4 linked regions of the Homo sapiens genome follow. The protein of the gene in region 3 purifies or fractionates together with the protein of the main gene of each other region. This does not show direct contact. Each region holds a gene or a part of one and is shown on either strand. Other genes may lie near its edges.

Region 1 (7,536 bases), on a different chromosome or scaffold from region 3:
CTGGTACTCTGACTCAGTCAGAAACCACACTAAGTGTCCACTGGTGCCAGTGATTTTTCCTCTTAGAGAGGCAGAAAAGGTCTTACTTAGGCCAGCTTCTTGTTCTAGGCCCAGGAAGTACACGAGAAGCTCCGAGGATGGCTGAAGTCCAACGTCTCTGATGCGGTGGCTCAGAGCACCCGTATCATTTATGGAGGTGAGTGGCTTTGGTTCCCGGCTGAGGTGGAGTGGGCTGAGGACTAGACTGAGCCCTCGGACATGGAGGTGGGGATGGGGCAGACTCATCCCATTCTTGACCAAGCCCTTGTTCTGCTCCCTTCCCAGGCTCTGTGACTGGGGCAACCTGCAAGGAGCTGGCCAGCCAGCCTGATGTGGATGGCTTCCTTGTGGGTGGTGCTTCCCTCAAGCCCGAATTCGTGGACATCATCAATGCCAAACAATGAGCCCCATCCATCTTCCCTACCCTTCCTGCCAAGCCAGGGACTAAGCAGCCCAGAAGCCCAGTAACTGCCCTTTCCCTGCATATGCTTCTGATGGTGTCATCTGCTCCTTCCTGTGGCCTCATCCAAACTGTATCTTCCTTTACTGTTTATATCTTCACCCTGTAATGGTTGGGACCAGGCCAATCCCTTCTCCACTTACTATAATGGTTGGAACTAAACGTCACCAAGGTGGCTTCTCCTTGGCTGAGAGATGGAAGGCGTGGTGGGATTTGCTCCTGGGTTCCCTAGGCCCTAGTGAGGGCAGAAGAGAAACCATCCTCTCCCTTCTTACACCGTGAGGCCAAGATCCCCTCAGAAGGCAGGAGTGCTGCCCTCTCCCATGGTGCCCGTGCCTCTGTGCTGTGTATGTGAACCACCCATGTGAGGGAATAAACCTGGCACTAGGTCTTGTGGTTTGTCTGCCTTCACTGGACTTGCCCAGATAATCTTCCTTTTTGAGGCAGCTATATAAATGATCATTTGTGCAAGAAAAAAAAAAAAACAAGAACAGGTTTCTATAACAACATCTCTTACTATTTTTACTTGAAAAAATGTTTTGCGTAGCAGACTGTCATAGCCTTGAACGCCGGCTCCCTTTCTTCCTCCCTCCAAGTGGCTCTGGGGCTGTTGATTTCCGCAGAGCTTGGGTTGGGGTAGGGGCTCAGCCTCACCAGCTTTCAGCAGCTGGTCTAGGCCAGCAGTGCCTCCCCACCTCCCCAAGGGGAGGGGTGGTGGCAAGACCTCAGCACAGTCTGTGGTATCACAGGGCTCACTGGTAGAGCAGGTAGCGCTTCATGGCAGGGGGCAAGGGCAGGGCAGACACCTGGCCGAGCCGGGTATCCCCCAGGTTGTGGCGCACACACAGGCGGCTCAGGTGCAGAAGGGAGTGTGGCTCCGCTGGGAGAGAGAAGGAGGGGAATGTAAGTATGGGTGCAGCCACCAGCCAGATGTCCTCAAACTACGGGGTCCTACTCAGATGCCTTTCTGCTTTCCTGCTTCGAGTGTGCCCACCTGGCTGAAAGGGGAATTTGAGATACCCGGAAGTTCTGCCTCCCAGATAAGATTTCACACATCCCTAGTCAGAGCTGGGGGTGAAGAGCTGGCTAAGGCCCTCTAAACAACAGGCCAAGGTGGCTCTGACAGTGGTGGAGCTGGCCCAGGCTTTGACTCCAGAGGCTTGGGAGCTGGGGCTGAGGTGAGGAGGGATGGCCCTCCACTCTACAGCCCACACAACTGCAGAGAGCAGCTCCAAGCCCTGGACCCAGTCAGTTCCTGGGGAGGCTCCTCCCCTGCTGCCCCACCCTAAGGCCCTGCCTCCTCCACTGCTCTCCTCCCTGGTGCCCAGGGCCCCAGTGTCTCCATCCAGAGGTGTGGCTGAGGAAGGAAGTAGGTATGTGGCACAGAGACAGGTTAGAGCCCAGGGAATCCGGTATACAGCCTGGGTACCTGGCTCTGCCCATCCTTCTTTTGGACCTGTACATCAAACCCAGTACCTAACGCTTTGCACCTCTTGCTCAGGGGTTGATATCTCCTGAATTCTCTCATCCCTGCAGTTCCTCCCTCCATTCTGAAGGTTCACCATTTACTGGCCAAGAGAACTTGAGAAAGTTGCTTTCTCAAGCCTGTTTCACCTCTATTGCTGTTGGGTTAAATTAAATAACAGCTGTGAAGACCCCTAGCCTTTCCCAGCACTGAACAGAGGTTGAGGCAGGCTGGATGAAGGTCCATCCCCTCTGCTCTTGTCAGAAGAGTTTCCATCCCAAACCACTGCCACCAGGGACAGAAAGTTCTCCCCACGTCTGCCCCAGGCCTCACCTCTCCTTTCGCCCAGGTAGCGGATGCGGACCTGGCACTGGCCCCAGACAGCGCTTACTGCCGGATAGAGGGTCCTGCCCTTCAGTCCGCGGAATGCTGGCCCCAGGTAGGTGCCCCCAATAGCGTAGCCCAGAGTTCCCTCCTCCATGTCCAGAACCACCAGCAGTCTCTCTGGCACCTCCAGCTGCTCACCCTGAGTTCCCGCTGGATACTGGGGGGCTCCGGGCCCCTTGCTCTGATGGTACAGCTTCCCCCGCCCGATGTCCCAGCCCCACGACTCGCTGTTGCTGCCCAGCAGCGCCGCGTAGTGGTCAGTCTGCAGCGGGGCGAGGGCCGTGGCCACGCCCACCACGGCATGCGTGCCCCTCTGCTCTAGGGGCCAGCTGATCTCCCAGGCGTGCAGGCCCCTTGAATAGCCCCTCTTACCCCGGGCCCCATCAGTGCTCTGGGCCACGGGCCGCCGCTCAAAGTACAACCCTCCTTCCTTGACCTCGATGTTCTCTGAACAGTCTTTGGGGTTCCAACCGTGGCGCCGCTGGGCCCCCAGGTCAGGAGGGGGTGCAGACAGCAGCTCTTCCAAGCCCTCGGGACAGGAGAGGTCAGGGTACAGGGCCTGTGGCGTGGGGGTGCTGCTGCTGCCCCCTGCCAGAGCTGTCTGGCCCATGGAGGTGAGGAGCTAGAGGACTCCCCGAAAGAGGCTTGCTGGGGCGTCTTTCTCTTCTGAAAGTTGAGCTCCAGTTTGGATTGACCTGGAAGGGAGCTGGGAGAAAAGGGGCGTGAAGAGCAGAATCCTGGCGGGGGCTCGTCACCCAGGTACCCCATCCTTTCACCCAAGTTTGCCAACGGGCCCGCTCCTCCCTCCTCGCTGCCCCAAAGCTCCTGGGCCCTTCATCTGCCCTCGCCCCATCTGATCCAGGTCGCCAGAGACTCTCGCGAGTTCGCCCCATTTGGGCCTCAGCATGGACCATCCCCCTTACTCGCCCGGAGCCCTCGCCGCTGCCCCCGAACCTCGGTTGACTTCCCAGCCCTGGAGGTCGCCGGGCCTCTGAAGGAGCCGGGCGGAAAGAAGCCGAGGCGCGCAGGGCGCAGACCGCCGGCCGCTTCCGCCCCCAGCTCCTCCCTTGGGCCGAGCCCGTCCCGCGGCCCCGCCCCTCCAGGGCCCTCTGGGGCTTAACCCTCTCATCGCCGCCCACGGCCGTGCAGCTCCGAGGCCACGCCCCTGTGGGGCCCCGCCCCCTCCTGGGCAGTTACCGCTCTATACCGGCAGCAGCCGCGGAGAGCATGCCCCGCCCCCGTGGAGCCCACCCCGGGCGGTTAACCTCGGGTCTCAGTCCCGGGCTGTGACCCTCCCCGAGGCCCCGCCCCCACGGCGAAGGCCCGGGGCAGTTAACCCTTCTCTTGCTGCGGCAGAGTCCGCACCCGGGCAGGCCCATCTCAGAATTAACGCTTTGATGGCATCACCGCGTCGGGAATCCCTGGGGATGGTGTTCTCCACCGTCAAGACCTTTGAGCCGCCTGAGCGACTAACTCCTGCGCCCCTGAGGGTAAGGAGCATGGGGTCAAGGAGGGGCTTCATTGTGCCGAATCCCATTTCTACTTCCCTGTGATTCTGGGTCACTGTTTCTGGGCTGGTCCCTTTCTGCCCCGGGTTGTGAGTCAGCCTGTGCCACCTCTGAGGCTGTGAAATCTGCTTCAGGCTCTAGGCTGTACGCATCATAGTTCTCCCTGCTGGTCCAGTCTTCATACTGGATGCCAATCCATTACTGAGCCGTTGATCTCATTTGGTAGAGTGTCCTGATTAAGACTTCGAGTTTGAGTGAAGCTATGCCACTAGTTAACTGCGCGATCTTGGGGAAGTTGCCCGATTTCTCTTTTTTTTTTTTTTGAGACAGGGTCTTGCTGTCACCAAGGCTAGAGTGCAGTGGCGCCATCACAGCCCACTGCAGCCTTGACCTCCTGGGCTCAAGTGATCCTCCTACCTCAGCCTCCCAAGTAGCTGGGACTACAGGCATGTGCTACCACACCCAGCTAATTTTTAAAAAAATATTTTTATTTTTATTTTTATTTTTTTCGAGACAGAGTCTTGCTCTTGTTGCCCAGGCTGGAGTGCAGCGGCACGATCTCGGCTCTCTGTAACCTCCATCTCCCAGGTTCAGGGGATTCTCCTGCCTCAGCCTCCTGAGTAGCTGGGATTACAGGCACCTGCCACCACGCCTAGCTATTTTTTGTATTTTTAGTAGACACAGGGTTTTGCCATGTTGGCCAGGCTGGTCTAGAACTCCTGACCTTGTGATCTGCCTGCCTTAGCCTCCCAAAGTGCTGAGATTACAGGTGTGAGCCACCACGTCCGGCCAAAAAAAAATTTTTTTTAGAGACAGGGTCTCCCAAAGTGCTGGGATTTCAGGCATGAGCCACTACGCCCAGCCCCAGATTTCTGTAGTTTTCTGTTATGTAAAATAGGAGCAATGATGGTAGTTACCTCACAGGGTTGTTGTGCAGTTGAAATAATCCAGGTAAAGCATGTAGCACAGAGCTGGGTACATAGTAGTCACTCACCAAGCATAGCTGTCAATGTGCTTAATGAGTGCCGACACTATAAGGAGGCAATATAATATAATGGCAAACATGCCAGCTGTGGGACCAGACTCCCCGGGCATGAATACCTGAAGGCCAGTGTGTGTATGACCTTGGGCAAATTACTGAACCTCCCTGTGCCTGTTTCTTCCTCTGTAAGACAGAGATCACATTAGTATCTATTGCATGGGGTTGGTAGTGAGAATCCAATGAGGTTATAGATGTAACACATTTGGAAGAGTTTCTGGTTCGCATTTAATGATTTGTGCTAAGCACTGGAGATTAAGCAGTGAATCCTTAAGGAGGTTACAAAGACTTTTATAAAATAATGTATCATGTAGTAATAGTAAATAAAATTATGGAGATATAAAGAAAGTACTATAGGAGTAAAAAGAATAGGACTCCTATCCGGGGTTCAAGCAGTTAGGAAAGGAGCATCTCCAAAAGAGGTTCACACCTGGGCTGAATCTTTTCATGTCCTAGAAGAGGTTCACACCTTCACACTGGGCTGAATCTTTCTCTTTTTTTTTTTGAGACGGAGTCTAAGCTCTGATGCCTAGGCTGGAGTGCAGTGGCGTGATCTCAGCTCACCTCTGCCTCCTGGGGTCAAGTGATTCTCCTGCCTCAGCCTCCCAAGTAGCTGGGACTACAAGCGTGCACCACCATGCCTGGCTAATTTTTGTATTTTTAGTAGAGACAGGGTTTCACTATGTTGCCCAGGCTGGCCTCGAACTCCTGACCTCGTGATCTGCCCGCCTCGGCCTCCCAAAGTGCTGGGGTTACCGGCATGAGCCACCGCGCCCAGCCTGGGCTGAATCTAAAAGGATGACCAGGAATTGGCCTGAGACGAGCCACTTCTCTGCAGTATGGAGGTTGGGTTACGGTTGCTGCATGTAGAAGATATTCCAGACAGAAGAGTCCGCATGAAAAAAAGCAAGAAGCAGCAGGTGGGTTTGGGGAAGTACGATATCTTCAAGGTTGCTACAGCCAGAAAGGAAGCATGAGAAGGGCCAGATAAGTAGACAGCAAGTCACAGAGGCCTTCTAGGCTGAGTTAAGGAATGCAAATGTTTTCCCATAGGACAGGCCAGTGATGGGGAGCCACTGTAGGATAGAAGAAGAGAGGAACATGGTCAGATAGGCATTTGATTTATTTATATATTTTGAGCCAGGGTCTCACTTTGTCACCCAGGCTGGAGTGGAGTAGCGTGATCACGACTCATGGCAGCCACAACCTCCTGAGCTCCGCTGATCCTCCTACCTCAGCCTCCTGAGTAGCTGGGACTACAGGTGCATACCGCCATGCCGAGCTAATTTATTTTTATTTTTTTAATTTACAAATTATTATTTCTTAATTTTTAAAATAGAGACAGAGTCTCAGTCTGTTGCCCAGGCTGGTCTCGAACTCCTGAGTCAAGCGATCCTCCTGCCTCAGCATCCCAAAGTACTGGGATTACAGGCGTGAGCCACTGTGCCTGGCCAGATCTGCATTTTAGAAAAACCACCCTGGCAGCAACATAGAGGAGCTTCAAGGGAAATAGAACTGGAAGTTGGCTGGGCGCGATGGCTCACACCTGTAATCCCAGCACTTTGGAAGGCTGAGATGGGCGAATCACCTGAGGTTTGGAGTTCGAGACCAGCCTGGCCAACATGGAGAAACCCTGTCTCTACTAAAAATACAAAATTAGCCGGGCATGGTGGAGCATGCCTGTAATCCCAGCTACTCAGGAGGTTGAGGCAGGAGAATTGCTTGAACCTGGGAGGTGGAGGTTGCGGTGAGCCGAGATCACGCCATTGCACTCCAGCCTGGGCAACAAGAGTGAAACTCTGTCTCAAAAAAAAAAAAAAAAAAGGACTGGAAGCAAAGACACCATTTCCAGCAGCCCAGGTGACAAGTGTCAACAGCCTGAAATAGGACAGTAGAAATAAGGATGAAAATAATTCAAGAAACACTGATGAAACGGCAAGATTTGGTGACTGATTAGATATGGAGTTGAGGCTGGGCACAGTGGCTCACGCCTGTAATCCCAGCACTTTGGGAGGCCGAGGCAGGCGGATCACCTGAGGTTGGGAGTTTGAGACCAGCCTGGCCAACATGGTGAAACCCTGTCTCTACTAAAAATACAAAAATTAGCTGTGTGTGGTGGTGGGCACCTGTAATCCCAGCTACTTCGGAGGGTGAAGCAGGAGAATTGCTTGAACCAGGGAGGTGGAGGCTGCAGTGAGCCGAGATGGCGCTACCGCACTCCAGCCTGGGCGACAGAGCAAGACTCCATCTCAAAAAAAAAAAAAAAAAAAAAAGAGAAAGGGAAGTTTCTAGCCTGGAAAAATTGATTGGAAGGTGGTGCCACCAATCAAGATGGAGATGACAGAAAGAGGAGTAATTGAGGGCAGGGGCAGGAGGGTGGGAGAGGGAGATGGTGAGTTCAGTTTAGGATATGTTTTTGAGGTGTCTGAGCCACAAGCAAATGGAACCATCCAGAACACACAAGAAAATGGCAGGTCTGGAGGCAGAATGAGAGGCCTGGGCTGGAGACAGGGATTTGGGAGGTGTGTCAGTCTTTAGTCAGGAGTTGAACTATGAGAATGAGTGAGTGAAATATGGGCGATGGGGACAAAGAGAGTGTGGAGCAACAGAAGGGTCAAGGAGAATAGAACAAGGTAGA
Region 2 (8,001 bases), on a different chromosome or scaffold from region 3:
AGAATCAGTTTGTTGATATCCATGAAATAACTTGCTGAGATTTTGATTGGTGTTGCATTGAATCTACAGATTAAGTTGGAAATAACTGATAGCACTGCTGAGCTTTCCTCTCCATAAACATGGAATATCTGTCTATGTAAATATTTGATGTCTTTTATGAGAGTTTGGTAGTTTTCCTCATATAGACCTTGTACCTATTTTGTTAGGTTTATGCCTAAGCATCCCATTTTTTGGTGCTATTGTAAACAGTATTGTATTTTTAATTTCAAATTCCAATTGTTAATTGCTGGTATATAGGAAAGCAACTGGCTTTTGTTTATAACCTTACATAGTAGTCCCCCATCTGTGGTTTTGCTTTCCATGGTTTCAGTTACCTGCAGTCAACCACAATTCAAAAACATTAATTGGAAAATTACAGAAATAATTCATAAATTGTAAATCATGTGCTATTCTGAGTAGTGTGATGAAATCTCGTGCCGTCCTGCTCCATGCTACCCAGTACGTGTGCCACCTTTCTGTTCAGCATATCCATGCCATATACACTACCTGCCCATTAATCACTTAGTAGCTAACAGAGAGACCACACTCATGTAACTTTTATTACAATATATTGTTATAGTTGTTCGATTTTATTATTAGTTATTGTTGTTAATCTCTTGCTATGCCTAATTTATAAATTAAACTTTATCATAGATGATCCATATGTAGGAAAAAACATAGTATATATAGGGTTTGATTCCATCCCTGGTTTCAAGCATTCCTATATGTACTATAGAGTTTGGTACATATCCCCAACAGTGTCTTAGAACATATCCCCTAAGGATAAGGGGGGGGACTGCTGTATCCAGCAACCTTGCTGTAGTCAGTTATTAGTTTCTGGAGTTTTATTGGAGATTCTTCAGGGTATAATACACAGTTAATCTTACCACCTGTGCAAAAAGACAGTTTTATTTCTTCCTTCTAAATCTGTAACCCTTATTTTCAAGTCTTATTGCATCAGCTAGGACTTCTATATGATGTTGAACAGAAGTAGTGAGAGGGGACATTCCTGCCTTGTTCCTGATCTTAAGGAGAAAGGGTCCACTTTCTCACCATTAAGTATGATATTAGCTGTTGGTTTTCTGTAGATGTTCTTTATCAAGTTGAGGAAATGCCCCTCTCTCTATTACTAGCTGGGTGAGAATTTTTTTTTTTTTTTTTTTGAGATGGAGTCTCACTCTGTCGCCCAGGCTGGAGTGCAGTGGTGCGATCTCGGCTCACTGCAACCGCCGACTCCCTGGTTTAAACTATTCTCCTGCCTCAGCCTCCCAAGTAGCTGGGATTACAGGCATGTGCCACCATGACCGGCTAATGTTTGTATTTTTAGTGGAGACGGGGTTTCGCCATGTTGGTCAGGATGGTCTCAATCTCCTGACCTCGTGATCCGCCCGCCTCGGCCTCCCAAAGTGCTGGGATGACAGGTGTGAGCCACTGTGCTCAGCCAGCTGGGTGAGAATTTTTAACACGAATGGGTATGGAGTTGCAGTTAGGCATGATGAAAAAAATGTGGAGCTGGATAGTAGTGAGGTTGCACAATAGTGTAAATGTACTTCATGTACACTTAAAAATGGTTCAAATGATAAATGTTTTGTATACTTTACCATAGTAAGAATAGTGTATTTCGAAGACAACAACACAACCTCCCACATGTGGCTCTAGCTACTTGCTCCCCAGATACCCAGCCGCACCCCTGCCTCAGGCCCTTGCATGACCTTCCCTCCGTCCGAGGCTCCTCCTGCAGATACAACACAGATGAGTGGAGAGATGCAAGGGGATAGGCGAGGGGACACTGAAGACATACTCAGAAAGCTCCCCGTGGCTGGGTGTGGGAGAAGCCTGGAGGAGGGTGACAGCAGCAGTTGGATTCCCATCCACCTTCCTGTGCTTACTACTAGCTGGTAAGTACAAGAAGCCAGCGAACCTCTTGCAGTTTCAGTTCCCTCATCTGTAAAATGGAGGTATCAGTGTCGTCAAGCCAAAGGCTGCCAGGAACCTGCCTGTAATTGAATGAGTTGGGATTATCACTCATTGCAGCGAGAGGGATGCAGATCATGGAGAACTGCAAGGCATCTCAGTAAGAGGTGTCGGGAAAAGTTACTAAAGGTTATGGGCTTGAGTTGGGTGATTTTTTTCATGGATTAGATGCTGTCAGGAATTGGGGGAGTGGATGGGGGGAAAGGGTGGTTCTCTGGGCATCTCAGTAGATGTTATCTGTGAGGAGGCCAGGGCAGAGGGAGGCTCAGCTGTAGCTGGTAGAGGAGCGGGGGTCATTGTTACTAACTTGGAGATGATATGTCTTAGATTTTGTGGGTGGCACAGTTACCCTGTTTTTGTTTGTGCTTAGACAAAATTATGACGTGGCCTTGGATCATGATGGTGCTCCTCTACAAAATTATTTATGTCCAACAGGAGACCCCATGGCCTCGATCTGAGTGCCAGGCCAGCTCCTGATGTCACGGTCCACTTTTCTTCTTGGAGGTCATACTAGTACCTATTTCATGGAAATAACCCATGTAGAGTGCTCAGTATATACCCTGTGAAGGGTTATGAATGCTGATGGTAGTGGAAGCTGATGTGGAGGGGAATGGTGGAGACACCTTGGAAAACCAAGCAAGAGTCTGAAGTTGTGGCAGGCCGGGTCTCACTAACGCAGGCCTCCATTACAGCTGTCCCAGCACGGACTGAGTAGCCAGGTTAAACATTAAAAGCTGATTGAGCCAATGCCCTTATACAAAGGTTGGAATGTAACAAAGAGCCCACCAAGAGTTTTGCCTAGGCTCTTCCTGGGCCTTGAAGCATGACAAGATAACGAAGGAACTCTTAACAGGACCCTTTTTAGGATTAAACAAGTTGTATTAGGGATCTGAAGAAACTCCCCAGGCCTCCACAAACAAGTTTATGGGGGTCTAAAGGAATTCCCCATATCATTATGATTTAGCAGGAGACAAGATAAGGGTAATCACCCCAGCACCTAGACCCATTTAGATTAAGTAAACTTACTGAGGCTCCAGAAGAGGGTCTTCAGGACTCAACCTTAGTCATAGATTAAAAGAAGTTAATCACTTATGTCTGTAGATGAATGCACACTTACATGTAGACATACAGCTTAGAAGGTATACGAGCTTTGGAAAACTTTGTAATTTTGAGTTGGTATGGTGATAATTTCCAGGCCTTCTCCTTGTAACCGGTTACAGAAATAAAACCTCTCTTACTCTCCAGCTCATTTGCATCTTGTTATTGGGCCAGGAGAAGTAGTAGCCCGACCCTCAGTTGGGTCCAGGAACAAAGGGAGTGTCTGAAGACAGCAGTGATGTGATCACCTGTTTTAGGAGGACCACTCGCCAGAGCCCAGGGGAATGGTGGGAGGGGTGGGGAGAGGTGAGGGGAGCTGGGACAGGGCAAGGAGGGATGTATGGAGGACGTGTCCCCTGGCAGTAGGAAGAGAGTCAAGGATGACTCCAGGGCTTCTGTAATTTGAAACAGTCACAAATAACCACAAGCTCTCAGGTGGAAGGACACTGAGAGCCCCATGAAGGTCATGAGGTGGTGGGCCACCTCAGGTCCGTGGATCCAGGACCATGGATCAACAAGAGAAGTGAGGTCTCCCTGGGACCACATAACGTGGTGAAGGCACCGGCCTTTGGTTTTCAAACTCTGCTCCTAAGTGGAGCTCCAGGGTCTGGGGAGGAATGCCGAGTTAGGAGGGAGGCGGGAACCGGAGACCCAGGCCCACTCGTCCGCCCCAGCGACGCTGGCACTTGCACATATGAGGCGGCTTGCATGGCTGTGCTTGAAGAAAGGGTTCTGCAGCTACAGCCTATCTGCAAAGCCCCACGCGAAGTTTGGGCAATGGGCTGTGTGAACCCAGAAAATGGGAGACAGGTCTCAGTTAATTTACAAAGTTTATTTTGCCAAGGGTGAGGACGCGCCCGTGACACAGCCTCAGGAAGTCCTGACATGTGCCCAAGGTGGTCGGGGCACAGCTTGGTTTTATACATTTAGGGAGACAGGATACATCCATCGATACATGTAAGAAGCACATCGGTTCGGTCTGGAAAGACGGGACAACTTGAAGCAAAGGCAGGAAGACTCCAAGCGGGGAGGGAGCGTCCAGGCCACAGATAGGTGAGACACCAACGGTTAAATTCTTTTGAGTTTCTCATTTGCCTTTTCAAAGGAGGCAAATCAGATATGTATCTATCTAAGTGAGCAGAGGAGTGACTTTGAATGGAATGGGAAGCAGGCCTGCCCTAAGCAGTTTCCTGCTGGAGTTTTCCTTAGTGATCTTGGGGGCCCAGGATATCTTCCTTTCACAGCTGATTTCACAAAGCCGGCTGGGTAGGAGGGCCCCAGGGCCGGGTGGCCGTCCGCGTGGCAGGGCGGGGGTCCCAGGGCGGCTGTGCTTGGTGCTGGGAGGCCGCCCGAGGGCAGCGCCGGCCCCGAGTCAGCAGCCGCAGGGCACCCTGGAGATGCGGAACGCCCCCAGCCGTGGGTCAGCAAAGGCGTCTCAGGTGACCCTTAGGGAGGGCTTCTGAGGCAGCCCGTGCGGGGTCCGTCCTGGCTGAGCACTGCGCGGACGGCGCGCCCGCGAGACTCGGACCCGGCCTAGGGCTCAGCGAGCTCTCAGCGGGGCGGGCGGACGCAGGCAGCCCAGGGGAGTGGGGCCCGCCCTGCGCCGCCATCACCCCTTTAAGTGCCAGGCCCGCGGCGCATGCGCAGTCAGGCCGTTGTGCGCAGGCGCAGAGGCGGCGGCGGCGGCGGCGGCGGCGGATGTTTACGGCGGCCGAGGTTGGAGCGGCGCTGCTCGGCCGCGGACACACGAGGGACGCGCCCGAGGAGCTGCAGGTGGCAGCCCAGGCGGTCCGAACCCGTCGGCCGGCCGAGCCTGGAGGTAGAGCCGCCGCCGCCGCCGCCGCCCCTCGGTCCGGCCTGCGGCGAGCGGGTGGTGTGTCCCCTCGGCCCCTTCCCTCCTCCTTCCCCACCCCCGGCACCCCTGCGCCCGGAGCTCTCCTCTGGGGGCGTCGCTCCTCCCCACCTCGGGCACCCTCACCTCCCCCCAGCGGCCTCCAGGGCGTCCCGCGTTTCTCTCTCCGAGCGCTCGCGGTTTCCCGTCGGTCTCTCCCGGTGCCCGTTGCTCACTCACACTCTTGGGTCTGGTTAGTCCAGACCTGCAGCTTGTCTTTGACTTCCCAAGTGGGAAACGTTTGCAGTTCCAAGGCAAGCCAAGAGCTAAGGTTTAGAACAAAGTCTGCCTTGGACCCTTTCAGAAGATGACAGGATTTTTTAAAAAAATAATTGCGCCCCCCCGCCCCGTGCCTTGGAGATAGTAAGAATTGGAGCAGAGCACTGGGACTTCAATTCACGCATGGAAAGAGATCTTTGTTAGTTGGAGGAAGGAGAACTTGCCTGAGCTTCGGGCCTTTGTTTTGTTTTTGTGAGAGGGACGTGTCTCCTAAATGAATGTTTGCTCCAGCGTTGCACCTCAAATAAGTCACCTAAATATCCACGCCCTCTTTATCCACCCCCTCTTTACTCGTGTGACTAGAATAGTTTTCATTTTTCTTCTCAAGGGAATGGCTAAACAGCTCCTATCTGGGCGTTTGATAGACTGTCATTCAAGAATGAGTGAAGTTGAGGTGCCTATAAGCAACTCAGAAATTGTTGTGGCCACGCTTGGGGGAAATAGAGCCCTACACTCAGGTGATGAGAGGAGACCTCAGAGGTGACCGATCCAGGGCCTTGCTCCCTGCGCCACCCCAGCTCGTACCTCCAGTGGAACTTGGCTGGGCTTATCAAGAGCTCCTTTCATTCATTGCAACTTCATTTGTTAGAAAGCTTCTCTGTGTATTTAGTAGGCATTGTCTCCAACATGTACCACTGGTCTGGCTTTTGTTAGGCCCATTAATAGTGTACATGTGACAGCCTTTCAAGTATAGGTGCTCCCCGGCTTACGGTGGGGTCGCATCCCAGTAAACACATCGTTAAACCTGAAGTCGAACCATCCGAAGTCGGAGACCATCTGTATTTGAAAAAAGTCCCTTTGCATTGCTTGTAAGAGTTCTGGTTTTCAAGGTGAGAAATCTGTTTGTGTGTTTGTTTGATCATTCTGCCCAAAGGAGATGTGGCTTTGGGTCCTTTTCCCCACTCATCTTCCACAATGAATTACTTTGTCCATATTACCCTAAAGAAGTGACATCCAAGTTGGAATGTGATCTTCCGTATGTCGCCTCCCAAAACCCCACTACCATAGCTTCATGCTTGTGTTGACACAGCCACAATCACAACTCAGGTGTCAGTTCTGAGACCTTCCCATGCCTGTCGCCACTCAGCAAGTGTTCTTCATGTGCCCTGGCAGTTCGCATTGTAAGGAGCAGCCAGGTTGTTATGGACTGTTGCTAGTTACCACAGAGTAGTGAATTATATTAAGGATTAATTACAGCAGACAATGTGCACAGTATCATCGAGTGCAGCGTTCTAAAAATGATTCTACACTTTTACTTTGAAAAATTGGATTTGACCAGATTGTAGAATCTGGGTGAAAATGATAGGATTTGGTTTGGCGAAGAGCTTTGTTGTCGGTGTTTTTGGTGACATCATGACTGATCATATCGATGGTTTTCAGTGCGAGGGAGTGTTAGATTACCAGACAAAGATGGTAATAAATATCAGACCCCACAGCTATTCACATGGATCCTACCAGTGGCAATAGGTATAGATAGGGTTACCCCATCGTCAAAAGGTTACCGGTGTGTTGTGTGGTAAAGAACGTTGCTGTCTTGAGTATTTTTAAAAGCTGCACTGGTGTGGTATTAAAAACACAGGCCTTTTGCCATACAGTCCTGGGTTTGAATGCAGCCCCCTCCTCACAAACTGGCTATGTGATCATGAACAAATTAACCGGCCAGCTCCAATTTGCTTCTTAATGTTGTGAAGTGTAAATGAGGCCATGACTGGCAGGTGGTACCTGGAAAAAGGTGCTTGTTTTTACTAAAAAGCTGTCTGAACTTTCAAATTAAGGCAGAGTTCAAAATAAGTGATAGTTACTTAGTGGAAAATGAAACCTATCCAACATACAGTTTGAGGTTACCTTCTAGAGATGTGGCATTGAGACAATGTTGGAACATTATATACAGGCTTCTGGGTGAAGAGGTGGCTTTGACTGAGGACGGTATGCGATTTTCCAGCTCTTTTCCTAAATAGACCCTTAAGCATCCAAACACATGATTCCGCTTTTAACCACTGACCCAAATTTTAAGATGACTGTGGTAGGCTAGGGTGCAGCCTCAGAACTGAGTGGCTTATCCAGGATTAAAGTTGACCTCATTAGGACTTAATTCCATCTAAGTCTAAGTCAGCTGGCTGTGGACCGTAATCTAACAAGGGCTCCGAAACAATTCAAAAAATTCAAAAAGGGTGTGAAAATTTAATGACTGGACCATCCTATTGATTTGCAAAACCTAATATTCAGCTCTAAAATCTTGAGTGTGAAGATTGAGTGTTCCACCATAAAAATAGAAGAGAATTTGTGTTAAGCTATACCCTTCACACTTTTTGTTCACTTGTAAGAAACTATGTGATTATTTTCATTCCTGGGAAAACCTCCCACCGCTGTCTCCAGTTGTGTACGTGGGTGTGTATGAAATCCGCCCCAGGCCCCTTGTCACCCCACAGTATTTCTTTACGATCCTCATTCTACTGTTAGAAATCCAGAGGAATGTGAGGAGGAAAGCAAGTATAAACTTCATCATAATTATAACAAGTTGTTAAAAAGGTTGTGTTCATTTCAGAAAATGTCTTCATGAGGTCTGGTGGTCTTTTTCCCTGACAATTTGTATCTGGTGTTTTGTAAAGCATTACCATTTTATATGAAGTTAAAGCAGTTACTTTGAAAAAGTTACATGGGGTAAGTATAAAATTGGAAAGGATATTTTTGTAGTTTTAAGAAGAGTAAGACTTCTCCGC
Region 3 (7,836 bases):
TAGCTGGGGATACAGCCACCAAGCTGGCTAATTTGTTTTTTTTTTTTTTTTTTAGAGATGGGATTGCACTATGTTGCCTAGCTAGTCTCAAACTCCTGAGTTCAAGCAATCCTCTTCTCCCACCTTGGCCTCCCAAAGTGCTGGGATTACAGCCATGAGCCACTGCCCCAGCCTCTCCTTTTTTTTGAAGCACTTTTCTCTGCCTTGGTAACTTGCCTATTTGCAATTTATTTTTTCCATAAATATCTCGTGTGTGTGTGTGTGTGCATAATTTTTTTTTTTTTTCAGACGGAGTTCTCACTCTGTTGCCTGGGCTGGAGTGTAGTGGCGCAATCTTGGCTCACTGCAACCTCTACCTCCTGAATTCAAGCGATTCTCCTGCCTCAGCCTCCCAAGTAGCTGGGATTACAGGCGCCCACCACCACGCCCAGCTAATTTTTGTATTTTTAGTAGAGATGGGGTTTCACTATGTTGGCTAGGCTGGTCTCGAACTCCTGACCTCAAGTGATCTGCCCACCTCGGCCTTCCAAAGTGCTGGGATTACAGGCGTGATCCACTGTGCCCGGCCTCTATTTTTCTTGATAAGACATTCTGAAACTGTTATGAATTTACTAATATATTACAAGCCAATCATATATTTCCTGCTACATGAGAGGATACAGTCTTAAAAACAAAAAAACATAAACCAACCCATAAAGTCCTCCTAAGTTCAGCATCAGGGAGTTCAGTTGCAAGCTTAAGATTTTCAAAGCTGATTTTCTCTCTGGGTCTTTGGTTCCATGCAAACAATACAGCGAGCTGAAACGTGGTTACCTCCAAATCATATTGACCAACTTCATTCTTAAATGTTATCTATAATAGATAAAACAGATTTTTAATAAAGAATCTCATGATGATTCTCTCTTAATATCTATGACATGAATTTATATATGAAAAAGGTTGCTGTCTTCCAGTATCCACTCTTTCACAGTAATAAACATTTTAGAAGACGTTAATGACTGCCCAGAATACACGCTCATCTCCCAGCTTTCCATGTAACAAAATGTGGCCAAGTGACTGAGTACTGGCGGATGCAAATGGAAAATGACAGAGGAAACTTCTAGAAGTTGTCCCTAATGAAAGGTGTAAGCTACCCTCACCTTTTGCTTTCTGTTGCCAGGAATACTGAGATAGTTGGGATCATGTTGAATTCTGTAGACAACGGCAGTATCTTAAGTATGATGGTATAACCAGAAGCCTATGTCCCTATCAACTTCATGAAAAAAATTCACTATTTCTGCTCAAACTTTTACATGTGAGAGAGGCAAAAATCTATTTTGTTTAAGCAATTCTGCGGAGTCCTGCTACTTTCATCCAAACTGAAAGCTGAAATAACTAACACACTATCTACTTACAATTCCATTTGACATGAGATGATGCCAATGTAATTTTCTACCACTATGATTTTTTTTGTAGAATTCTTCTACTTCCGGTATCAAGTCCTCCAGTTCAGTAGGAAGTGAGACAAAGACTTTCTCAGAACTTCTTGACCAGGCGCCAGCATTCAGAATTTTTATATTAACTGAATCAGCTATAGAGAAGAATATCAGGAATATAAAGTAAATTAACAATGGATAAAATTCAAAATAAATACAGGGTAACTTTGGGTGAAAAATCAATAAGACTATAAAGATTTTGTTAAAAGTGTCCTTTTGTTTTGAAATAAAGATCTGTAAATCTAACACACTGCTTTGATAGCTGTCTCCACGGAAATGGACTTCATAACATCTTTCGATCTATTACTGCTGAGGTTTATTTTTAATTTACTGGAAAACAAAGATATTCTTCTAAGTTTAAAAAATATATACATGTAATTATAAAATAATACCTGGTAATGCCAATTTATTATTTTTGTGCATTTCCTTAAAAGCTTGGTTCAAATCTTCAGATACTTTTATGTCCTGAAACATTCTAGCAAGCTTGTTTACATAATCCGCTGGCATACCAACTTCCTATAAATATAAACCAAAGAAGGAAGAGGTAATAAATACATAATCTGATATATTACTGGGAAAAATTTTAATAGAAAAACTAAGTCTTAAATGTTTTAATACAAAATTTTTCTCATTTATTAGAATTTTATTGTCTAATACCTATGAAATTTGCTACTTAGAAACAAAATACGGTATTACAAGGGGTCCCTGCTTTGCGCATTTTTAGTATGTATGAATTTCAGTTACCACAGTACAGTTAAATAATACCAATTCCCCAAGAACAAAGCTCAACTTTCAGTTGACACTATATAATAAATTTAACTGCATGAAGTAAAAACTTTATTTCTAGCTCTTTGATCCACAAATCATGACAAAAGTAACAATGACTAACCACAATACTTCTTTCAAAATCTATTAGTTGGCATGGTGTGTAATCCTAGCACTTTGGGAGGCTGAAGCAGGAGGATCACTTGAAGCCAGGATTTTAAGACCAGCCTGGGCAACACAGTGACACCCCCATCACTACAAAAAAATTTTAAAAGTTAGCAGGATATGGCGGCATACTGCCGAGATAGTCCCAGCTACTCGGAAGGCTGAGGTGGGTGGATTGCTTGAGCCCAGGAGTTTAAGCTCTGATTGTGTCACTGCGCTCCAGCCTGGGCAACAGAAGATCCTGTTGCTTGAAAAAATTAAATAAATAAATTTTTAAAAAATGTAAACACAACCTATTAGTCATTTGTTTATTCAGTTAAACTGCAGACAGCAAAGTATGCAGTTTCATTGCATCCTTGTCTTCCAGTAATAAACCCACATGACTACTTACAAAAAAGAATAATCAAACAAGATAATTGGCAAAGATATAAAAGTAAACAGGAAATGAAAAGTGATAATGCTGGAAATGAAAATAAAATAGAACATAAATGGAGTTATAGAAGAAAGCTGACTGTGGTAGTAAGGCTGACAATGCCAGTGTTGAGGAACTTAGTGAAAGCAAATTACCAACATAAAAGATAAAAGTGGTGAGTGACAAAAAAGATAAGATACCCTAGAAGAAGTGATCCTGGCAAAAATGCTATAAAGGAATTCTCAGTATTTCATGACACTGACAGCCCAAAAGATAAAATGCTAGAAGATCATCCAAATTACAGGGGGTGTGACAACTCTCCAAGGCAAAGAAAAGATGCTTACTCTGTCAAGTTACACAAGAAGGCAAAAGCTATTCAAACTACTCTTTATTAACAGCTTTACTGTGTCAGATAATTTATCTACCATAAAATCTACTATTTTAAAGTATACAATTTGGCTGGGCTCATGCCTGTAATCCCAGCACTTTGGGAGGCTGAGGCGGGTGGATCACCTGAGGTCAGGAGTTCAAGACCAGCCTGGCTAACATGGTGAAACCCATCTCTGCTAAAAATACAAAAATTAGCTGGGCATGGTGGCATGCGCCTGTAATCCCAGCTACTCAGGAGGCTGAGGCAGGAAAATCGCTTGAACCTGGGTGGCAGAAGTTGCAGTGAGCCAAGATCGCACCACTGCACTCCAGCCTGGGCAACAAAGTGAGACTCTGTCTCAAAAAAATATAAAAAATAAAAATAAAAATAAAATATACAGTGTAATGAAGTTTAGTATATCTACAGAACTGTGCAACCATCACCACTATCTAATTTTAGAACATTTTCATCACCCCAAAAAGAAACCCCATACTATTTACAGTCACTCGTCATTTCCCCTCCTGGCCCCAACTCCTGGAATTTGTGGATTTGCCTATTCTGGACACTTCACATTAGTGGAATCATACGATATGGTCTTTGGGATTGGCTTCTTTCACTCAGCATTATGTTTTCAAAGTTCACCTAATATTGCAGCATGTATTATTAGTTTATTCCTTTTTATCACAAAAAATATTCCATTGTATGGATAAATCACATTTTATTCATTAGCTCACTGACATTTTGGGTTGTTTCCACTTTTTGACTATTATTAGTAATCTTGCCATGAACATTTGTTTACAAGTTTTTACATGAAACATGTTTTCATTTCTCTTCAAATGAATTACCTAAGAGTGAAATTGCTGGGTCAGCTCTACGTTCAACATTTTAAGGAACTGCCCAACAGTTTTCCAAAGTGTCTGCACCATCTTATGTCTCCACTAGCAACTTACGAAGGTTCCAATTTCTCCTCTTCCTTACTAGCATTTGTTATCATCTGTCTTTATTTTAGCTACCCTAGTGGGAATAAAGTAGTATCTCTTTGTGTTTTTTTTGTTTTTGAGAAAGGGTCTCACTCTGTTGCCCAGGCTGCAGTGCAGTGGCACAATCTCAGCTCATTACAACTTTGAACTTCTGGGCTCAAGCAATCATCCCATCTCAGCCTCCTGAGTAGCTAGAACCACAGGCACACATCACCATGCCTAGCTGATTTCTGTATTTTTTGTAGACATGGAGTATTGTTATTTTGCCCAGGGTAGTTTCTAACTCCTGGCTTCATGCAATCCTCCCACCTCAGCCTTTCAAAATATTTGGGATAAGCAGGAGCCAACATGTTGAGCATTTCACTTGCATTTCACTAATGACTAATGATGTTGAGTATCTTTGCATGCACTTATTGGCCATCTGTCTATCTTCTGTGAAGAGATGTCAATTCGAATCCTTTGCCTGCTTTTAATTATTTGTCGTGTGTGTGTGTGTGTGTGTGTGTGTGTGTGTGTGTGAGTGAGAGAGACAGGATCTGACTCTGTTGCTCAGGCAGGAGTACAGTGGTAAGATCTCTGTTCAATGCAACCTCCACCTCACAGGCTCAGGCGATCCTCCCACCTCAGCCTCCCAAGCAGCTGGGACTAAGGTGCATGCCATCACACCCAGCTAATTTTTTAAATTTTTGTAGAGATGGGGTTTCACCACGTTGCCCAGGCTCATCTCAAACTCTGAGCACAAGCCATCTGCCCTCCTCAGCCTCCCAAAGTGCTGGGATTACAGGTGTGAGCCACCATGCCTAGCCTTGTTTGTCATTTTACTGTTGGGTCTTGATATTTTTTTTTTAACAAAGAAATAACATAGGCCGGGTGTGGTGGCTCACGCCTGTAATCTCAGTACTTTGGGAGGCCGAGGCAGGCGGATCACTTAAGACCAGGATTTCAAGACCAGCCTGGCCAACATGCAAAACCGTGTCTCTACTAAAAATACAAAAATTAGCCAGGCGTCATGGCACAAACCTGTAGTCCCAGCTACTTAGGAGGCTGAGACAGGAGAATTGCTTGAATCTGGGAGACAGAGGTTTCAGTGAGTCAAGATTGCACCACTGCAATCCAGCCTGGGTAACACAGCAAGACTACATCTCCAAAAAAAAGAAAAAAAGAAAGAAAGAAAGAAAATTTAATTCTAAAGGTTTCTCGTAGTAAATATGTATTAGTTTTGCTATTTTCCCCTTTTTCCTATATACTTATAAGTGACAGTAAGAGTTTTGAGTCTTTTGACAATAGTTTTAAAAAGTCACAGAATAATCATTCTTTTTCCTACTAAGCAGTTTCAGTTAGCACAGTAATTTTTACTATCCTAAAGTTCCATGCGAAGGGCTAGCTATAAGTTAAAATATCTGTAGGTCTCTCTCGTGTGTGCTTGCTCGCACTCTCTCTCTCTCCATATATATGTGGAGAGAGTTATATACATACACAGAAATTAAAGATATTTACTTTAATAATTAAAACAAAAAAAGAACTCAAAATACTTTATATGGGAATTTAGTTATAATCAGCATTGATTACCCTAAATAGGCCATCATTTAAAGGTTCTTTTTGCTATACAGAAGTATTTATTGTTATCATTTATAAACATCTCTAAAGTTAAGCATTTAGTACTGAAAATACCTTAAAGATATAATAATTTGTCCTGCAGTCTATTTATTTATTTTATTTTTCTTGAGATGGAGTCTTGCTCTGTCACCCAGGCTGGAGTTCAGTGGCTCGATTTCAGCTCACTGCAAGCTCCGCCCCCCAGGGTTCATGCCATTCTCCTGCCTCAGCCTCCCAAGTAGCTGGGACTACAGGCCCCCCACCACCACGCCTCGTTAATTTTTTTGTATTTTTAATAGAGACTGGGTTTCACTGTGTTAGCCAGGATGGTCTCGATCTCCTGACCTTGTGATCCACCTGCCTTGGCCTCCCAAAGTGCTGGGATTATAGGTGTGAGCCACCGTGCCCAGCCCCTGTAGTCTATTTATTAATAAGGTCAGTTTAAATGAGAGTTGAGGTACAAATGGGAGTGAAACAGTAGAAACAACTCAAGAACAAAGATACTTTACTGAAAGTATTAAGAACATTTATTAGATATCACTTTATTTTATATAATTGATGGTATATTCTTTTTTTTTTGAAATGGAGTCCCACTCTGTTACCCAGGCTGGAGTGCAATGGCACGATCTTGGCTCACTGCAACCTCCACCTCCTGGGTTCAAGTGATTCTCTTGCCTCAGCCTCCCAAGCAGCTGGAATTACCGGAGTGCACCAGCACATCCAGCTAATTTTTGTATTTTTAGTAGAGACGCGGTTTTGCCATGTTGGTCAGGCTAGTCTTGAACTCCTGACTTCAGGTGATCCACCTGCCTCGGCCTCCCAAAGTGCTGGGATTACAGGTATGAGCCAGTGCGCCCGGCCTAACTGACGCTATATTCTTATAAAATGTTTCCTACTTCTTTGACATTAACAATATCTCCAAAATGTATTACTTAAGCACACATATAAATGATGTAATGTATTAGAAAACCAAATATTTAAAAAAATTTACTTACTCTTAGCCACTCTACCATGTTTTCTTCAATTTCACTATCGGCAGAGATGTCTAATATAAGACGTCGTGTCAAATGAGCTTTATGATACCTCATAAAAACATCTTTGTTCTGTACATACTTAAGTACCAAGAGCTGTATGAAAAATAAAGTTACTTTCAGTTCTTATATACTCTTACCATCTCTCGAATTTAGACCTTTCTATATCCACCAATTGTCACAAGTCAGAAACTTTTATGAGCATATACAGATAGAGGCCTACTGAATTATCCATCTCTGAGAAATACCCAGTCCTGATACACTACTTTAAAGGTTAGCAAAACTGAGACTATAACCAAATTGTTAGTCGGTCTAAATATCAGTTTTTTAGATTTTGTATAAAATGCAACGATATACTTTACATGAAAAAAATCAATGTCCCCCTGCAAAGTGTCTCTTCTACTTATCTTTTTCACTTTTTTTTCTGACACTAGTCATCTCTCTCGGCCTTTCTGTCTACACTTGCCCAATATCTTATTTTTTTTCTTGTTTGTATTCCTGGGCTTACATCATTACACTAACAACTGGGTGACAAAGATGAAAACAACTACTTAATCTACTCTCATTCATCCCTTGCTATCTATCTTGGACTCTCACAAAAAGGAAGGAGTGAAAAACTCCCAATCTGTCAACTATCATTCCAAATTTGTTGGAATGATATGTCCTGTATTAGTAGCTAGAACTTAATTCCTAAAAATAACCAAGAAAGGAGAGGAATTAAATGGTATTCCTTTCAAGAAGCTGTAGAATAAAAATTTTCAGAAAGAAAAATAACCCCCCGAGAGGTCTTGCACTGCAAATCTTCGTAACATTAGTTCTTTACAGATAATACATTTTTAAATTGATACTATCACAGAAAGTCCTATAAGCAAAACACAAATTCAAAGTAAGGTAATTTTAAAAGTTGAAATACAAAAAATTCATGTACCACTTCTTTAAGCTTTGCTTCAATCTCTTCAGAGGTTAGTTTTTTGCTTAATGGTGTTTTTCTTAGCAACATGTCACAGTAATTGGCAAGCAGCTCAGGGCATTTTGATTCAGG
Region 4 (7,836 bases), on a different chromosome or scaffold from region 3:
TCTGTCACTCAGGCTGGAGTGCAATGGCGTAATCTTGGCTCACTACAGCCTCGACCTCCTGGGTTCAAGCAATCCCCCTACCTCAGCCTCCGAAATAGTTGGAACTACAGTTACAAGTCACCACGGCTGGCCTTTTTTTTTTTTTTTTTTTTTTTTTTTTTGGAGAGATGGAGTCTCACTATGTTGCCCAGGCTGGTCTAAAACTCCTGGGCTCAAGTGATCCCCCAGCTTTGGCCTCCCAAAGTGCTGGAATTACAGGCATGAACTTTAAAATATAAAATCAAATTATTTCTTTGCTTGTTATTTCCCTGGCCTAGGAATGTTAAGCTCCTCAAAAGATACAAGTTATCCCACAACTTTAGTTTTCAAACATGATCCCAGTGAAAAAAAATGTATTTAACTAATAATGTAAGAGCTTTGTTTTCTAAGACAATCTATGTGTTCATCTTGTTTTTTTCAAGAACCCAAATTTTGACTCATTATCACCTATGTTAGTATCACTTGTTATGTTCTAATGTACATGTTCTTTTAATGCTTCTTTAAAAATCCTTTATGTTTTTGAGTACATATTATATGCCAGAAAGTGTTTTAGGCAATAAGCAACACATTTATTTCTAGTTGCCCAAAGAATTTAACTTCTCAATCTATCTAAACTTTCACTAAACCTTTCCAAGGTGAGATGATTACTGAAATCTGATTTACCTCGAAAACCTCTAAGCTATCAATCATTGAAAAAGCATAAACAAAGAAAACACCTTGACATGTGAGTCATTAACTAAATAACTAGTTTATAAAGGACAACTAACTAAACATTCCCTGGAAAACCCTTTCCTACTGTAATACTCTCTAAAGAGTGATGAAGCAATATGAACTCCATAGTTTTCCTAAATTAAAATCATGAGCTGAAGAAGGTGACATTCAGGTCTATTATAAAGACGCACCTATGCCATCAATTCTTGCTTTTCAGTAAGCTGAAATCCTCAAATCCCAATTCCAGTGCCTATAAGCAGTGCCCTGCATCATAAAATAATACATTTGCTTTAAAAACTATGAATCCATACCTGTATATACATCCCATATTTTGATACGCCCATTGTTCAACCCTGTAGCAAGAAGTAGCTGATCTTGTCCAAATCTGAAGCGATGCCATTCTATATTTACACAGCGACTCTGTTTTTCTGGAACTGATGACCCAAAAGCAAGACTCCAGACTATATCTCCACAGTCTATAATATGTTCACGAGGCTTATTTTTCTGACCACCATCACTATTTTGTCTTGGCAATCTTAAACTGCTTGAATTGGTAACATTCTTGGTGCCATGCAAGAGACTGGAGTGGGGGAAGTCAGATGGAAATTGTATTATTATTCACTCTGGACTCCTCTGGACATTGAATAATTACAAGTGTTTGTTAAAATAACCTCAATATTATTATAATGACACCAAATAACAATAGAATCCTATAGATAGGAAGGGAAAGGTTGATATTTGAACTACGAGAGAAGGACATTAATAGAAATTCTCAGTGACTGAGTAGTAAGTTCAACAATAAAGCAATTTATATTATAACTTATTTGCCTCCCAAATTTTCCTCAAAACCACCGAATCAACTGGTGCTCCTTCAACCTAAAAACACAAGTATAAATAAGCAAAAAACAAACAAACAAACAAAAAAACCCAGTAACTTAAGATATGGTCAAGCTGATATCAGAAAATTGCCTTAAAGGGGGAAAAAAATCCTCAAACCATAATGATCAGTTTCCCATAGGTTCCAGACCTCAAGTTATATGTAATGAGAACATTAGTGACTATAACCATGAAGGTCTGCTAGACACAAAAAAAACAGGGAAAGATCCAATATAGCACATGATACATTTTAGAAAAACTTTCAACAAACATCCAAACTCAATTTACCCCAAACAGAGGGACTATAAGTCCATTAAAAACAAAAACAACAACAACAACAACAAAGGGCCAGGCTCGGTGGCTCACGCCTGTAATCCCAGCACTTAGGGAGGCTGAGGAGGGTGGATCACCTAAAGTCAGGAGTTCGAGACCAGCCTGGCCAACACGGTGAAACCCCTGTCTCTACTACTATGCACCAGGGTTATCCAACAAAATGTAAAATCCAAAGTGAATCCAAAAAGCTTCACATCACAGAAGTCACCTACTCTGGCACAACACTATATATATATATACACTTGTTAGACACAATCTGACTTTTAACATACAGAAAAACTTAATGTATAAATAACACCAGACAATTCTTTTTTTTTTTTTTTTTTTGAGACATTATTTGGCTCTGTCACCCAGGCTGGAGTGCAGTGGTGCTATCTCGACTCACTACAACCTCCGGCTCCTGGGTTCAAGCAATTCTTCTGCCTCAGCCTCCCGAGTAGCTGGGACTACAGGTGTGCCACACCACGCCCAGCTAGTTCTTGTATTTTCAGTAGAGATGGGGTTTCACCATGTTGGCCAGGCGGGTATCAAACTCCTGACCTCAAGTGATCTGCCTGCCTTGGCCTCCCAAAGTGCTGGGATTATAGGCCTGAGCCGCCGCGCCCGGCCCAAAGAATTCTTTACACAAAATTTCCAATAAATATATTCAGCCCATGATTAAAACTCACGACATCATCTATAAAGTAAAACTTAAATATCAAAATGTTTTTATTACCCTACACTGAGAGAAAATGGTAAATTCCACAAACAGATACAAAATACAGAAAAGTAACAGTCTTACAAGTTCTGAAGGCACTGGGACCACGGAACAAGCTTTACTGTGCGATGTCCTTGTGACCAAGCAAAGTATGAACCATCTGGAGCAAAAGCAACAGTCCAATTTTCACGACCACATTTCTTGTCAAAAGGAGCTGCAGGAGCTAAAAGTTCACCTATAGTACGTAATCTCACTAAAAGGAAAAATAAAAATACTGGATATCATATATAACCAACAATACATGTGAGACTGCTTCCATATTACTTTGGGATTGAGTTTCTTCCCTCTTCTATGCAGACAGGGTATAGTGAGTTCTGCATTCCATCCTCTAACGGGGGGTATGCAGTATATGAAGACCCCTTAACGATAATGACTATCTCCAAGTTTTGATAAAGTGATTTCCCTAAAATTTCCCAATGCAAGAGTTTTTAAGAAAGTTTCCGTAAAAAAAACTGGTCAATAATAATGTAATGACCAATTAGACCTAACAATTACAAAAGTCCTAACTTTTGCATTGTATTACGTTCTCATCAAATTATTAACATTTAAAATGCAAGAAATTAAACTTAGTTGGCAGGAAAAGTATCTTCCAAATTAAGTTTCTTAGCTTTCAAAAACCATACCTCACCATAAAATACAATATTACACCATTACTCAAAGGAAAGCACTACAAAATACACTATCCAAACAAGTATTTTTACCCTTTTCAGGCCCAGGTCACAAAAATCACAAAACCCTCAGAACTAGAAGAGACTTACAGGTTGTCTAGTCCAACCCTCCAAACCAGTGCTTTAAAAAGGCATTATAGGCCGCGTGTGGTTGCTCACACCTGTAATCCCAACATTCTGGGAGGCCAAGACAAGCGGATCACTTGAGGTCTGGAGTTTGAGACCAGCCTGGCCAACATGGTTTGAAACCCTGTCTCTACTAAAAATACAAAAATTAGCTGGGCGTGGTGGTGGGCGCCTGTAATCCCAGGATGAAGCAGGAGAATTGCCTGAACCCAGGAGGCGGAAGTTGCAGTAAGCCAAGAAAGTGCCACTGCACCCCAGCCTGGGCGACAGAGTGAGACTCCATCTCAAAAAAAAAATAAGCTAAAATAAAAGAAAATGCATTATAGCCGGGCATGGTGGTATGCTGGAGTGTGTCTGTAATCCCAGCTTCTTGGAAGGCTGAAGCATAAGAACTGTTTGAATCTTGGAGGTGGAGACTGCAGTGAGCCAAGACTGCATCACTGCACTCCAGCCTGGGTGACAGAGCAAGACTGTCATAAAAAAAAAAAAACAAAAAAAACCAAAATGCATTATATTTGTGATTCTCAAATACTGGTCCTTAAGAGTCTTCCTAATAGGCCTCAAACTGACTCAAAAATGGAATTATTTTGGTTTTTAAGGACAAAAAATGGACAATGTCATATATTTTAAATTCAGATTACTCAAATTTTGTATTCCTAACAAAAATTGGCATATTACCAGAGTATATGGAGAATATTACTTCCATATTTAACAAAAAGCATGATCAACAAGCTCATACTGCAATGCATGCATGCAAACTCAGCTACAATTTCCTCAATTTGGGGAAAGGAGCCTCTTTATCAGTGTATCACCTATTTTGGGTTGGTCTTAATTTTCCCTATTACCTATTTTGTGGTCAGTTGTCTGGTCAATTGTACACTGTATAATAATATATTTTTATGTATTTCTGGTTTAAACTTTCCAACACCTAAGCTTTAATATATTCTATGTTATTGCTGTTCACATAAGAACCCCTTACACTGATATAGCTAGAGAACCTGGACATGGACACACCCACCCCCAAAATGTACTTCTTCAGCCTGAATGTATGCTCCATCAACAGCTAGTATAGCACCTGGCATATGACAGGTGCTCAGTAAATATTTACGGAATGAATATGAAAGCACACATTTATGCTCCCATTCTAAAGTGATTTAAATATGTTATCTGCCCAATTCTTGACACCTTAACAAATAGGTGTGGTTTAGAAAGCAAAAACAAAAAGCCTGAGACCTACTTTTCTATGATATTCATAATAAGGCTTACACTATTTTGGTGCAACTGAGACCGTTTTTAATGACTCAAAATCTTCCTCCTACCACTCTACCCACTCAGTACTGATTCTGACCTAAGAGAATAAGCCTGCTGCTATCCTCATATGGCATTTATATATTGAAGATAGCCATCAATGAATCTTTTTTACCAGGCTAAGAGATCTCTATCCTTTCAATCATACCTTAGATCACATGGTTTCAAGTCCATTTCCCATCCTAACTTCATCATACTTTTCTGGATAAATTCTAGTTAGTACTGGCCCTCATAAAAGTGGCACCCAGAACTAACCACAATACTTCAGGTGTGGTTTAATCAAAGCAGCAGAGTCCCCCACCCACCCCATATTAGCACAGCATAAGATGACATTAACTTTACTAGCCGTCACATAACTTTGTTTTTTTGAGTCAAGGTCTTGCTCTGTCATGCAGGCTGGAGCGCAGTAGCACAATAACTGCGCACTGTAGCCTTGAACTCCCAGGCTCAGGCGATCCTCCTGCCTCAGCCTCCCAAGTAGCTGGGACCACAGACATGCACCACTACACCCGGTTAATGTTTTTATTTTTGTAAAGGTAGGTGTTCCTTTTGTTGCCCAGGCTGGTCTCAAACTCCTGGGCTCAAGTGATCCTCCCACCTTCAGCCTCCCAAAGTACTGGGATTACAGATGTGAGCCACATAACTTTCTTAATACAAAATTCACAAACTTGGTGACCCTCAAATGCCTGCAGATACCTTTAACATACAAATGATTTCAGAAAGAGCATGCTGCTCCAGGTTTCCTTACAATTTTCCCAAACCTACAGCCTTATTTGTTCCTTTTACCAGGGTTCTTTATATGCCTGGCCTCTGAATTTGCAACCCCTGCCTGCTTAATTTTTTAGACAGGGTCTTGCTCTGTTGCCAAGGCTGGAGTGCAGAGGCAAACTCGTAGGCTTAAATGATCCTCCTGCCTCAACCTCCTGAGTAGCTGTAGCAGGGACTACGGGCACATGCCCCCACACTTGGCTAACTGAAAAAAACAAAAACAAAAAACAAACTTTTTTTTTTCCTTTTAAGACAGTCTTGCTCTGTCGCCCAGGCTGGAGTGCAGTGGCTTGATCTTGGCTCACTGTAACCTCCGCCTCCTGGGTTCAAGCAATTCTCCTGCCTCAGCCTCCCGAGTAGCTGGGATTACAGGCGTGCACCACCATGCCTGGCTAATTATTATTATTATTTTTTGTATTTTTAGTAGAGACGGGGTTTCACCATGTTGGCCAGGCTGGTCTCGAACTACTGACCTTGTGACCCGCCCGCCTCGGCCTCCCAAAGTGCTCAGATTAGAGGTGTGAGCCACCGCACCCGGCAAAAAAACAATTTTTTATAGACAGGGTCTTGCTATGTTACCCAGGCTGGTCTCCAGCTCCTGGCCTCAAACGATCCTCCCACCTTGGTTTCCCAAAGCGGTGAGATTAAGGCATGACCCACTGCATCAGGCACACTTTTTTTTTAACTTGGATTCCTGTTTAACCACATCTATCTTTGAAAACATTTTTAAAGCATTTTAAAAACATTTTACAAGCATTTTTAGGAGGAAAAAAATGCTAAGTTCACAAATAAGGGAAGCAAGTTTTAAAATTCAACTTAAAAGTCTCTATGGAGAATATTTATGTAACTTGTATACGAGGAACAGCCCTTGCATTCAATTTCAAGAACATCTAGTAAATGAGACTAAAATTAAGCTCTCCCTTAGCAAGCATAAGCAAGACTTAAATTTTTCATACGTGACTTTTTTTTTTTTTTTTTTTTTTTCTGAGACGGAGGCTTGCTCTGTTGCCCAGGCTGGAGTGCAGTGGCATGATCTCCGCTCACTACAACCTCTGCCTCCCGGGTTCAAGCAATTCTCCCTGCCTCAGCCTCCCGAGTAGCTTAGATTACAGGTATGCACCATCATGATGCCCACCACCACGCCCAGCTAACTTTTGTATATTTTAGCAGAGACGGAGTTTCACCATGTTGGCCAGGCTGGTCTTGAACTCCTGACCTCAGGTGATCTGCCCACCTCGGCCTCCCAAAGTGCTGGGATTACACGCATGAGCCACCGTGCCCAGCCTAGACTGTATTTTAAGGTTACTCTATATTTTTCTTCTACCTTGACCACAATCATGGAACTCCTTGTGTATAGTGGTAATAGGACAGGCACACTGGTAATCCCAACACTTTGGTAGGCCAAGGTGGATGGATCACTTGAGCCCATGAGTTTGAGACCAGCCTGGGATAGATAGGGGACCTCATCTCTACAAAAAATTTAAAAAATTAGCGAGTGTGGTGGCATGCACCTGTAGTACCAGGCTGAGGTGGGAGAATTGCTTGAGCCCAGGAGGCAGAGGTTGCAGAAAGCCAAGATTTCACAACCGCACTCCAGCTTGGGTGATAGAGCAAGACTCTGTCTAAAAAAAAAAAAAGAGTAGGCCGGGGGCAGTGGCTCACGCCTGTAATCCCAGCACTTTGGGAGGCCGAGGAGGGTGAATCACCTGAGGTCAGGAGTTCCAGACCAGCTTGGCTAACATGGTGAAACCCCCCATCTGTACTAAAAATACAAAAAATCAGCCAGGTGTGGTGGCACGAACCTGTAATCCCAGCTACTCGGGAGGGTGAGGCAGGAGAACTGCTTGATCCCGAGAGGTGGAGGTTGCAGTAAGCTGAGACTGCGCTACTGCACTCCAGCCTGGACGACGGAGCGAGACTCAGTCTCAAAGGAACAAAAAAAAAAGTAAAAGAGCGGTAACAATTACTAAAAAATTGGTTCAAATAGATAGCAAAGACAATGAAATAATAACATATTTATAACATAATTCTCAAATATATACAAACTCAAGAAATAGAGCCATTATAAAACCTACCAAATAAATGCATTAATCTGTTAAAATTTACTAATAATTGCCTTGTGTTTCTTTGCTGGATAACAGGTATATCAAATTGCCTTTGGCACTTTAATAAAATGATTTAAGTGCTCAGATTAAATACTGGTACAATTTTATAAACCTAGCACAAAGTTTGTAATAAAGTGCTTTGAAA

The links.
Region 1: the proteins of CUL5 (region 3) and SPSB2 purify together in Homo sapiens (affinity purification with mass spectrometry; 6 studies listed by BioGRID and IntAct, with this or other methods). This does not show direct contact.
Region 2: the proteins of CUL5 (region 3) and PCMTD2 purify together in Homo sapiens (affinity purification with mass spectrometry; 5 studies listed by BioGRID and IntAct, with this or other methods). This does not show direct contact.
Region 4: the proteins of CUL5 (region 3) and WSB1 purify together in Homo sapiens (affinity purification with mass spectrometry; 5 studies listed by BioGRID and IntAct, with this or other methods). This does not show direct contact.

The regions. Positions count from the first base shown.
Region 1 is NC_000012.12:6,869,941-6,877,476, forward strand, and holds SPSB2 (SPRY domain-containing SOCS box protein 2), read right to left. Parts: upstream 3,364-7,536; 5' UTR 3,306-3,363; exon of another isoform or gene 3,058-3,305; 5' UTR 2,962-3,057; coding exon 2,298-2,961; intron 1,380-2,297; coding exon 1,252-1,379; 3' UTR 995-1,251; downstream 1-994. Other genes in the region: TPI1 (triosephosphate isomerase), read left to right, coding at 109-196, 325-443. UniProt on the Homo sapiens protein: Substrate recognition component of a SCF-like ECS (Elongin BC-CUL2/5-SOCS-box protein) E3 ubiquitin-protein ligase complex which mediates the ubiquitination and subsequent proteasomal degradation of target proteins.
Region 2 is NC_000020.11:64,250,941-64,258,941, forward strand, and holds the start of PCMTD2 (protein-L-isoaspartate O-methyltransferase domain-containing protein 2), read left to right. Parts: upstream 1-4,807; 5' UTR 4,808-4,930; intron 4,931-8,001. UniProt on the Homo sapiens protein: May act as a substrate recognition component of an ECS (Elongin BC-CUL5-SOCS-box protein) E3 ubiquitin ligase complex which mediates the ubiquitination and subsequent proteasomal degradation of target proteins.
Region 3 is NC_000011.10:108,088,546-108,096,381, reverse strand, and holds part of CUL5 (cullin-5), read right to left. Parts: coding exon 7,723-7,836; intron 6,891-7,722; coding exon 6,759-6,890; intron 1,992-6,758; coding exon 1,868-1,991; intron 1,571-1,867; coding exon 1,395-1,570; intron 853-1,394; coding exon 691-852; intron 1-690. UniProt on the Homo sapiens protein: Core component of multiple cullin-5-RING E3 ubiquitin-protein ligase complexes (ECS complexes, also named CRL5 complexes), which mediate the ubiquitination and subsequent proteasomal degradation of target proteins.
Region 4 is NC_000017.11:27,296,861-27,304,696, reverse strand, and holds part of WSB1 (WD repeat and SOCS box-containing protein 1), read right to left. Parts: intron 7,511-7,836; exon of another isoform or gene 7,389-7,510; intron 2,910-7,388; coding exon 2,741-2,909; intron 1,331-2,740; coding exon 1,062-1,330; intron 1-1,061. UniProt on the Homo sapiens protein: Probable substrate-recognition component of a SCF-like ECS (Elongin-Cullin-SOCS-box protein) E3 ubiquitin ligase complex which mediates the ubiquitination and subsequent proteasomal degradation of target proteins.